Linked DNA regions of Homo sapiens: region 1 is linked to region 2. Evidence: fine-mapped expression QTL. Tissue or cell type: whole blood. Region 2 holds a variant in brackets; the other region holds the start of a gene. All regions are shown on one strand. Distances are between the middles of the regions. Region 1 holds the start of FANCC (FA complementation group C). Region 2 overlaps FANCC (FA complementation group C).

Evidence for each region.
Region 1: it holds the start of FANCC, and the variant in region 2 is fine-mapped to the expression of FANCC in whole blood (TOPMed, PIP 0.92).

Annotation. Positions count from the first base shown.
Region 1 is chr9:95,314,791-95,320,166 of GRCh38, forward strand. It overlaps FANCC (FA complementation group C), which reads right to left and starts at 2,919. Exons shown (of 15, transcript NM_000136.3): 1 at 2,736-2,919. RefSeq lists a silencer at 2,271-2,590.
Region 2 is chr9:95,263,713-95,269,088 of GRCh38, forward strand. The region is part of intron 1 of FANCC (FA complementation group C); the gene reads right to left. Among named protein-coding and RNA genes, the nearest start is that of FANCC, 51 kb to the right of the region's middle. RefSeq lists a silencer at 5,015-5,309. The variant TAG/T (reference allele first, on the strand shown) is at 2,985.

The sequences.
Region 1 (5,376 bases), 51 kb after region 2:
AAATTACTAAATACTGCTAAGAGAAATTAAAGCGCTCAACAAATGGAAAGAGATTCCATGTTCATGATGAGATGGCAATTCTCCCCCAAATAGATATGCAAAATTAAATGCAATTCCTACAAAGTCTATCACAGCACGGTTTTCTGAAAAAAAATAACAAACTGATACTAAAATTTATATGGAAATGTAAGGAACCCTGAACCGCCAAAACAATTTTGAAAATGAAGAAAAACATTGGATAACTTACACTACTTAATTTCAAAACTTACTATAAAGCTGCCATAATCAAGATAATGTAATGCTGACATAAAAGGCATGCAGGTCTCTTACCCTCAGTCCCGTATTAAACTTGAGTTAGAAGATGCCAATCTCAAAATGGAGGTAAAACCATTGCCTGCTAGCCCCCAGTCCAACTCTGGTGGCCAATCTGAATTGTTACCAATTTTATTTTTCCAGACACGGTCTCAGTCTGCTGCCCAGTGTGGAGTGCAGTGGCGCAATCACAGTTCACTGTGGCCTCGACCTCCTGAACTCAGGTGATCCTCCACCTCAGCCTCCCGAGTAACTGGGACCACAGCCCCGCATCACTATGGCCGGCTAATTTCTTAACTTTTTGTAGAGACAGGGCTCTCTCTGTTGCCCACGCTGGACTCGAACTCCTGGGATCAAGTGATCCTTCCGCCTCCGCTTCCCAAAGTGCTGGGATTACAGGCATAAGCCACCATGCTCTGCCTGTTATCTGAATTGCCTTTCCTTCTCCACTTCTGCATTTTTATTAAAACATTGCAAAACTTCCAAGGTGCTTCTCCTGTATGTATTTTTTCACATTAAGTCAATCACTCAAGATCCACAAACAAGACAGAGAATGCACATATCCCAGCCTAAAATAAAACTTTTAAAAATCATTTGGTGCTCATTTCCAGCCCGATTTGAGGCCCTAACACTACCAACTTGGAACTACCACTCATGTGAGTTTCCTCTGGCTCTCTCCATGGCCCAGATAATCAATCCAACTTTCTACTGGCCAGGCTGGCCTCCCTGTAGCTGGTTCTCATAAACACGAAATTTGTATAATTGTTATTGGAACTACCTGCTGAAATATGGAACTGGTTAAAAGTACCATTTGTTTTAAAATGTACATGCACAGTTGCACATACATGCAGCAACACATCTTCCACAACCAGCCAATCAATCAAGTTAATGCTTTTTATTAGAGGACAAAACAAAAAATACCAATATAGAGCCTGCTTTTCTTTTCTGATGCCTTGGTAAACGTTTTTGGAGAAATCAAGAGAAAATATGACCGAATAAAGCAAAAATAAATTCGAATGTATAATATACAAAGTATAATTAGTCCAGTTCTCAAGAAGCAGGCTCTATTACTGGGAGTAGTGGGTTGGTGAAAAAGATCTCTGATATATCTAGGAAAACAAATTCTTTTTCGATGCAGCCTTTCTTGTATATGAATAATGTATATGAGTGCTTATTTCCAGGTGACTCTGGTACAGCACATAACATTGAAACATCAATTCAAGTTTAATGTATAAAGTCGCAATGAACATGTTTTCCATCTAAGCTTAGGTAATGAATGATCTCAACACATGGTATGAATTCTACTGTTTGTAACAACCTTTCAGGGGAGTAAGGAGAAAACGATCTGTCTGAGGGCATATCACTGACAGTGAGTGACAGCCACAAAGAGCTGAAGTTGGGTGGCCCAAAAGTGCTCTGCTCATTTGATAAATGCTAAGTCAAATCACATCACAGTTTAGATGCATTAAATGGGGCACAAGTTAGAATAAAATCAGATGCCCGGGAGTTTTCCAAGTTTCAGATTAGAACAAAAGTCCAGGCACATACAGGACTTTGCTAGAAAACTCCTTGGTCTCTTCCCTTAAGATTCTGGTACCCAATTTCCCATGTTATAAAACTCCAAGTCTTTTCCCCCATTCGGTGCGCTGGACACATAAGATCATAGAGGGTTCGTAGTTGTAAACGCACCCACCTAAAAAATTAAAAAGAGCAAACCAACAAACAGCACCTGAAAAATCTCTCACGGGCTTTGAAGATATGGCCTGGCGTCCACAAAAAGAATGGAGGGAAGACACTGGCCTCTGCGAACCCGCCTCCCTCCGGGAATAAAAGGCGGAGGGCGGGAGGGGTAACAGCCGCGCCCCGGGCTCCTCTAATTGGACCTCGCCCCTCCTGGCGCCCCGGCGAATGGGGTTTGGGGGCAGGGGTGTGAGGGACGGGGAGGACGAGGCCAGCTGTAGAGGGCGACCGGCTCAAAGGGGCGAGCTTTTCACGGCTCCCACGAGTCCGAGGCAGAGAAATTCACCTTTGCTCCTCTCCTTTGAAGAAGACATAGCTGCCTGCGCTCAATGAACAAAAAGAACCAAAACGCCAACACCCGGCTCCCGCCTCTCCGGGGGCTCCCTTCCGCGCGACCCCAGCGCCGGCTCCCGCCCCCGCTTTCCCCGCCCTGGCCCCGCCCCGCGGGCTGGCACCGCCCGCCACCTTCCGCCTCCCGCCTCCCGCCTCCCGCCTCAGCCTTAGCCACAGCCCTGCGCCGGCGGGAACCCCTCTCGCCCACCGCAAGGCGCGCCTGGCCCACCCGCTCTCGCGAGCCTTCCCTCTTGCCCCTCGCCTCCTCCTCCCGCTCTCGCCGCTGACGTGTCGGCCAGACCCCCGAGGGAAGCCTCCGCCCTCGCTGCGTTCTGCGGCCTGCCGCTTACCGGGTGGTCCTCGCGGGAGCTGCTTCAGCAGTTTGGGCAGTGGCGGAAAGGAAGCCACCGCCCGGGATCTGTGGCTTGAAAATTTGGCTTTGCCTCGTATTGGCTTTTTGAGTTTTTTTGGAATTTTCCCGCGGTCGCCCGGCAGTGGAGCCGCGCGCGCGCACACGTGTCAGCAGTGCATTCTGGGGCCTGGCTAGCGGCCCCGCGCGCTCCCGCGGCGTCGCGGGAAAATTCCGACGAATCTCGGGTCCGTGGGGCGGGGCGGGCGCGGCCAGGGCTCTGGCGGAAGTGGGCCCGGCTGGGGCGGGTTCTAGGCGAGCGGAGTCGGTACTGCTCCAGTGTTCCCGGTTTCGCGCGGAAGCCCCGGCGGGAGCAGGGTTGCAGCAGCGCCCGCGGAGAAGGGGCGCTGGCTTCTTCCATATTCTGTTCAAAATGTAGGGGAGGTAAAATGGAAATTAGTTCTTTTGAAGAAAAGTTGAGGCTTTGTCAACGGGGTAAAACCTCTAAAATAAGATTTTCTAACTGCGTTCTAAACAATAGCAACAAAAAAGGCATCTTCAGTTAATGATTTCCCCTACCGTACATTAGTTCCATACAGTGTTTGGTCGGGGTTCAAATCAGTTCAACGCTGTACATAAACCACCCAAACAAATATTAATAAAATTTTCTCCAAACTCCCATTTATGACAATGGCATTAGCTTGTCTTGGTGAATTTTTTTTTCTTCTAGGATCTGACGACTTAAGCTTTAAAATGTCTTAAATCAATGCCTCACAACCATAAATCATAATCATAAAACTACAGCTTAGGTCGGGCGCTGTGTCTCAGGCCTGTAATCCCAGCACTTTGGAAGGCCAAGGCGGGCGGATCACGAGGTCAGAAGATCGAGACCATTCTGGCCAACATGGTGAAACGCCGTCTCTACTAAAAATACAAAACGTTTAACCGGGCGCGGTGGCGGGCGCCTGTAATCTCAGCTACTCTGGAGGCTGAGGCAGAATAGCTTGAACCAGGGAGTCAGAGGTTGCAGTGAGCCGAGATCGCGCCACTGCACTCCAGCCTGGCGACAGAGGGAGACTCCGTCTCAAAAAAAAAAAAAAAAAAGCTACAACTTCACATATACGTTCAAAAACACACTACAGGCCGGGCGCGGTGGCTCACACCTCTAATCCCAGCACTTTGGGAAGCTGAGGCGGGTGGATCACCTGAGGTCAAGAGTTTGAGACCAGCCTGGCCAACATGGCAAAAACCCGTCTCTACTAAAAATACAAAAATTAGTGTGTACTCCCGGCTACTTAGGAGGCTGAGGCAGGAGAATTGCTTGAACCCAGGAGGCGAAGGTTGCAGTAAGCCAAGATCGCACTACTGCACTCCAGCCTGGGCAACAGAGCGAGACTCTGTCTCAACAAAAAACACCACAAAGCTGTGTGTGCTTGTAATAAAAATAGCTCTCAAGTATTTAAACATGTCCAACTATTCCTATGGTGAAGAAATACCCGTTTTACCAATGAATACTTTCAATTCAGAGACTAATTTGCAGAGGTTATACATTTATAAGTGATACAATAAGTATATAGCATAGCAATAGCAACAATCTGTTTAAGAATTAAAGGTAGTTAAAAAAAGGAACCGATCCAGAGGTTGAGACAAAACTGGCAGAATCTGCAACTACATTAAGGAATTCGGTGTTTACATCCATTCTCGAAACTATTCCATGCCAGTTAAGGAAGTCGGTGCTTTTTGATTGTTTTTTAATTTTAGATTCGGGGGTACATGTGCTTGCTTGTTACATAGGTATATTGTGTAATGGTGGGGATTGGGCTTCTGGTGTACCTGTCCCCCAAACATTGAACATTGTACCCAATAGCTAATTTTTCAGCCCTCACCCCCTTCCCACCCTCTCCCTTTTTGGAGTCCCCAGTGTCTTGTTATTCCCATTCTTATGTACATGTATACCTATTGTTTAGCTCCCGCTTATGAGAACATGCAATATTTGATTTTCTGTTTCTGAGTTTGTTCACTTAGGATAATGTCCTCCAGCTCCATCCATGTTGCTGCAAAGGACATGATTTCGTTCTGTTTTACAGCAGAGAGGTCGATGTGTTTTTGATGTGTGCATAGTGTGACATGGATAAATCAAAAGCAAGTCCTGGGTAGGGAAATACATGCCTGAGGGGCACTCATCGTGGCACCTTGACCATGAGAAAGTCACCTCTGTGGTAACAAATCGAGAGTGAGTTGACGTTTAAGTTCTGCATTTATCAGCAAAGAAAGCAATTAAAGTATGTATTTCTTGAGAGAAATTATCTATTTTGGTACCCACATCCTTTTACATATTCGCTGAAAAATCATTTTTAGTGTTTGTTAATGATTGATGTCTTGCCATATCCCAGTTTTCTGTCTTTTTAGTTCAGTGGTTAATAAAGAATTGCTAGGCTCATCCAACTTTGCAGTATATGAAATGACACCATGTTTAGGCCTAAATTAGACCTAAATAGGAAGCATATATAGCATAAAGATCCAAACTTATATTTATAGGGATTCATTTTGCCTGGCATTCATATACATGGAACTATCTTAATAATATTTTAAGCAATAGTGAGATGTTCACTTTGTAAAATGCCCAGAAAGTTTCCAGAGAA
Region 2 (5,376 bases):
CAAATAGCAGCTTAGCATTATTATAAAAATAGTTTTACCCTTGTGAACCTCCTAAAAGGGTCTCGGGGACCCTGGGCCCTCAGCCACATTTTGGGAATGGCTAGTACAGACCAGTCATGGTATTTACTTTTGCTCGCCTATCAAACTGTAGGAACAGGTATATTATGGAAATATAGGGCATGAGAACTGAACTTCAACAAAAGGTTTCTCAGTTTTCCTCAGTTTTAAATGAGTTCACTTTTTTCCATATCTGACATAGTAGTCTTTGTGTGATACTCAGAACGGTAACAGTCACCTTGAGACCCAGGGATAAGGAAACCTGAGGGGACTGGCCAACATACTGCAAACAGCAAAGAAGAATCACAGCCCCGTGTCCTCACAGCATAGTTGAGGCAATGAAGGAGCCAAATGTGGAACTGCTCTTTTTGCTTAATCCCTTAACACCATTCTTTGGCTTTCCTGTTACTTGCAATCAAACACATCCTAGCTGACACATCTCAGGACCTAGTTTGCTGAGCATATTTTGAAACCCACAAACTCACACAATACTTGGCACATTGTAGGAGCATGATAAATATGTACTGAACAAATGTATGGAAAATAAATACATAAAAAAAGCAACAAGGCTGTTGTAGAAGAAAAATAAAACAGATAAAATTCTGACTGATTTTATGTTGATAGAAACCCCTGTAGCTCCAAGATTGTTAACATTTAAAACAAAGCTCATTTTAAACCACACAAAAGTAGCTATACATGGTACCTGTCAGGGGGACAAGAAAGTCTAAGAATGCTTTCCTTTGGTCTAAAACATCTCTAAGCCCAGAGAGCTAAGTCTACTCATGCCAAATATGGACCATATAAGCTTCTCAAAGTGGAGGCGACCTGATAAAGTGCACTTTTTTCCCATTTACCCTCAGCATGAGGTCCTTTCTCTCATGAAATAAGCACCAAACAGGAGATGTATGGAGAGAATGCTACAAAACACACTAATTATGGAAAAAGAAAAAAAAGACAAATCAAATACTTAGCTTCCAATCAATCAATGTCATCAACTAGGGGCACCATGACCTTGTCAGAAAATATTTAAAACCCCCTAAAATATAATCAAATATAAAATTAAGAAATTTATGTTCAATTCCACTTAAGTTGACAAGATTCTTCCTCTTCCTTGATGAAAGCCTGATAACTATTTTTAATTTGCTGAAATGTAATGTTTCTTTGCTTCACTTCACAGGGTAAGACTGGTCAATTTACCCCTGTGTTTGTGGCTTTTTTTTTTTTTTTGAAAGTCACAATAAAAGATTCTTGTTCCCATTAAGTGCTTATGAAAGAAACAAATGGTATTTTTCCTCCTAAAACCAATGAGGTTTTAAGAAAAGTTCCACTAGGAGGAGCTGGCTATTTCTCTGTTGAGTCAGTGGCGTTCCACCTCTGAGATAGTCTAATCAAAAACACAGACCTGAAATTTGCAGATAATTTCAAACAAACCTCAATTGTAAACAAAATCTGGGCCTAAGGAATTGGAGGAGGCAACTTCAATCCAGGTGCAGAGTATGTATATATACTCTTCAGATGACTTTGCAAAGAATTAAGGAAACTGAATCTAGCAGATAACTCTGGGGATTTACTAGGCTCAATTCTCCCACCCAAGACCTCAGCAATGGGGGGAGAGGAGCTATTCTCTGGACTTGGCTTCAAAATAAAAGCATCCCTTCACCACAGCGCTTGCCATCGAGGCTGCTAAGACAGAAATCTCTGACCTTGTTCTCCATCAGAGCACCAAGGAGCCATCATTCGGACTTGAAAAATACCAGCCTTCCCTCATGCATTCTATTACAATCATTACTTCCTTTCCTTGCGTTTCTTGTCCTCACTTCACTTACCTGACAGTAAGACTTGGGTTTTGGTTAGACCAGTTAGAAAGTGAGCTGAGGAACACATTAGTTATTAAAATATTAGGAAGCTTCTTCTTGCCTTGTGACTTGGCTCCAAGTTATTTCTGCCTCTTTCTCTCCTTGATTCTACAGGTAATTTATTACTACCTAAACAAAAACAAGGAAACCCATACATTTATTAGGAGCCTATTTTATGACAAGAGCTCTGAAAATCACTGCAAATAAAAAGATGACAGTGTTCCCCACTCTCAAGCAACTTATGGCTAATGAGGAAATTGGGACCCATACACAGATTACACTGTGGGAAGGGCTGGGAGAGAAGGAAACACAGGGGGCTGCAGGCAGCATGAGGAAGGGGCACCAGCCCGGCATGGAGGTGTCAGAGTCCCCAGAGAGAAACGATCCTGAGCTAAGCAGGTCAGGAAGCATGAGCAGGAGTGAGCTAAAGACATCAAAATCAAATGCAAGGTGCTTGCTGCAACCAACAGCAAGAGTTAAATTACCATTTGACCCATGGTTCTCAAACTTAAAAACTGTTGAGAGCTCCCAGTATTATCTAAAGTCATTCTTCTTATTAGTTAAATATTAACAAACATAAACCAGTAAAACCTTTATGCTTGTAACTCTTACACAACCACAATATAAAAAATATACAAATTAAATACCAACAAATCTACAAAATGAGTAAAATTTAAATTGACAAAATTAATTCAGCGTGATCAATGATGCAGTCATTGAAACTCACTTTGGACTAACCATGTAGGGCTTGGTACCGACAGGCAGGTTCTGTTGACTGGCCAATACTAACACATGCAGGGAGACAGCTTAATTCACGCATCACTTTCCTCTTCAGAACCACTGTGCAACGGCAATCTCTTAGCTCAAACACGTTATTTACATTTTCACCTCTGTTCTTTTATAATATCTCCCTATATTTAAAGCAGTGCTCCTTGGCACCAATACAAACACAACTCCAGGCACTGAAATTTTAAGACATTACTTAGTTAGAATTGCAGGCATTTAGGTGTGTGGAATTATGAATTTTTAAAAAATTACCACCAAAATGAAAAATAGAAGGTGAAACCTTTG[TAG/T]AGAACCATAGCACCCTAATAAATCCCACCTGCCTAATCCCACTCATCTTTTGGGGCCTGCAAGCCTCAGACGGAGTTTAAGTAACTATATGCTATGGGTCACTGAGCTCACATAGGAAGCGTTCTTGTGGTTAGCTTTCAGTACTATGTAAAACCAAGTATCTTTCTTTCCTTTAAACTCTCTGCCCATGTGACTTCCAGTTAAGATGGCACGGTAAATTCACTTTTGGATGGATTCTCTTTACTCCAAACATACAGCAATGAGAGGGGAAACATAAAAAGAAAAAAGGAAAAGGATACAGGCAAGCACACACACAAAATAAACATTTCTATGAAATCGATACGAGACAGAAACACAAAGAGGCAAGACCCCGAGGACAAAACCATGAGCAGCCAGCCCCTCCTATGCTAGGGTCCAAAAACAGGCAATGAAACTGTAGGTTTGGGTCTTAGAAGGGTTGGGGGCTAAACAGAGGCACAAACGACAGAGTGAGAAACTAGCACCCTTGCTGGAAGGTGGGATGGAAGGTGCTGACTAGAGCCCTACCCCTCCATGCCTGAAGGAAGGCTCGCAGCATCCTTGCCTCCTATGGAGTGGCGGTCTAGGGAGGATGGAGGACACCTGTCAGGCAGGACCAGGCACTGCGTGAAGCAGCCATGAATGCCCAGGTAACTAAGCCCCCACTGTGAAAGCTAGTTCTGCACCCAGGCTCCATGGAAGCCAGACAGAGACAAGCAGAATGAGGCTACACAGGGGAGAGTGTGCAGAGAGGGAGAAAGAGGCGAAAAATGACTGAATGAGTGAAAAGTTTTTAAAACCTCATTCAAAACATGTCATTTAACCAAAGTTCTAAAGTACATGAAGAAATAAATGCAACTAACAATATCAGACATTAGATCACAAATTCACTTCAGATGAAGTTAATCAGTCCAACAAATAGGTATATTTAGATGCTAAAAAATCCTAACAAAGTATACTTAAGACACTAAAATAATCCCAACAAAATATATTTAAGGTGATTTTTAAAACCAACAAAAATCAGTATATTTAGGGTGCTTTTTAAAAAAGCTAATTAAAAAATAAGAAAGTATAAATTGAAAAGGCAGAATTAAAAGATGGCTAAAAAAAAATCAACTGCAAAGTATGTAAATCAGGACTACGGTCATTAAAACCTAAAAACTCAGTGCACAAGATACTAGACAGTAGACTGGAGAGGAAGCACTCTGTCTTGACAAAACACACTGCACATCACTGGATCTGCAGCAGCACAGCTCAGGAGCCCAGCTGCTGGCCCCACAGCCTGGCCTCACTCGGACCTGGCTGGTAGCCTTTCGACATCACAGGTGACTGAATGGGTCAGATCAGCACATCCAGGCTGTGAGTCCCACTAGCATTTTGCCTCTCCCCTACCAGTTGGTGGATATAGGTGAAGTAACTTTCGTTTTATACAACCCCTACAGAAACTTGATGAAAAAGCAGACCCTGAAATGCTTCAGGCAACAGATTTGTCCTCCTTGTAATAGATAACTCACTCTGGATTTAAATTTATCTTCTTTGCCCACCACACTTCTCCAGCATCACCAAATGTGGACTTGACTGGATTCCTTATTCACCATCATGGTATCACAACCAACTTCGGACCAAGGAACTCATTATATAGCAAAAGGAGTAAAGCAATGGGCTCCTGCCAAAAGGGTCTGTTGTCAGCTAAGTTACTACTAGCTGCTGCATGAACTCGATGGCTTTCACCTGTATTCCTTCATCACTTCCAAATTTCTCTACTACATATTTATTTCTTTCTGCTGCATCTTCTCTGAAGCTTAAACAGGAAACAAACATTAACATAAAGGAAAACATAAACAAGAATGATACCCTGAGTTATGTGGAAAGGAACTTTGATTTGAGGAATCACAGATGAATAACAATATAAAAAATCTTGGAAAACTGGTAACAATACACATCGTAATTGTTTGGATAAACAGTCACATTTTTTTTTTCTTTAAAAGGTTAGAAAACCTCTCATTTAGGTTCCCCTGGAAAGCAGAGCTCAGACAGGCTAGAGAAGGTAAAGACCTTAATTCACCCCCTCATTTCCAAAGACAGAAAGCCTCTCACCAGACCAGCCATGTGATGCCCTCCAGGTGTGTGCCTGGCAGCTATGAAAGGGGACTGACAGGACACAGGCCCTGGAACCAGCCGCTGTGCTCTCAGAACCTCTCCAAAGCCGATGCTATGCTATAGCACAAGAGCACCACCTACTGAGTTCCAAGGGACAATTTAGTCCATTTATTGAAAAATGGCTCAGTAAAATATGACTGTGGAGGGATGAACTCCACATCATTTCAATCTAGTTGGCTGTGTCTCTTTCTTTTAAAACTAGAACCCTTGC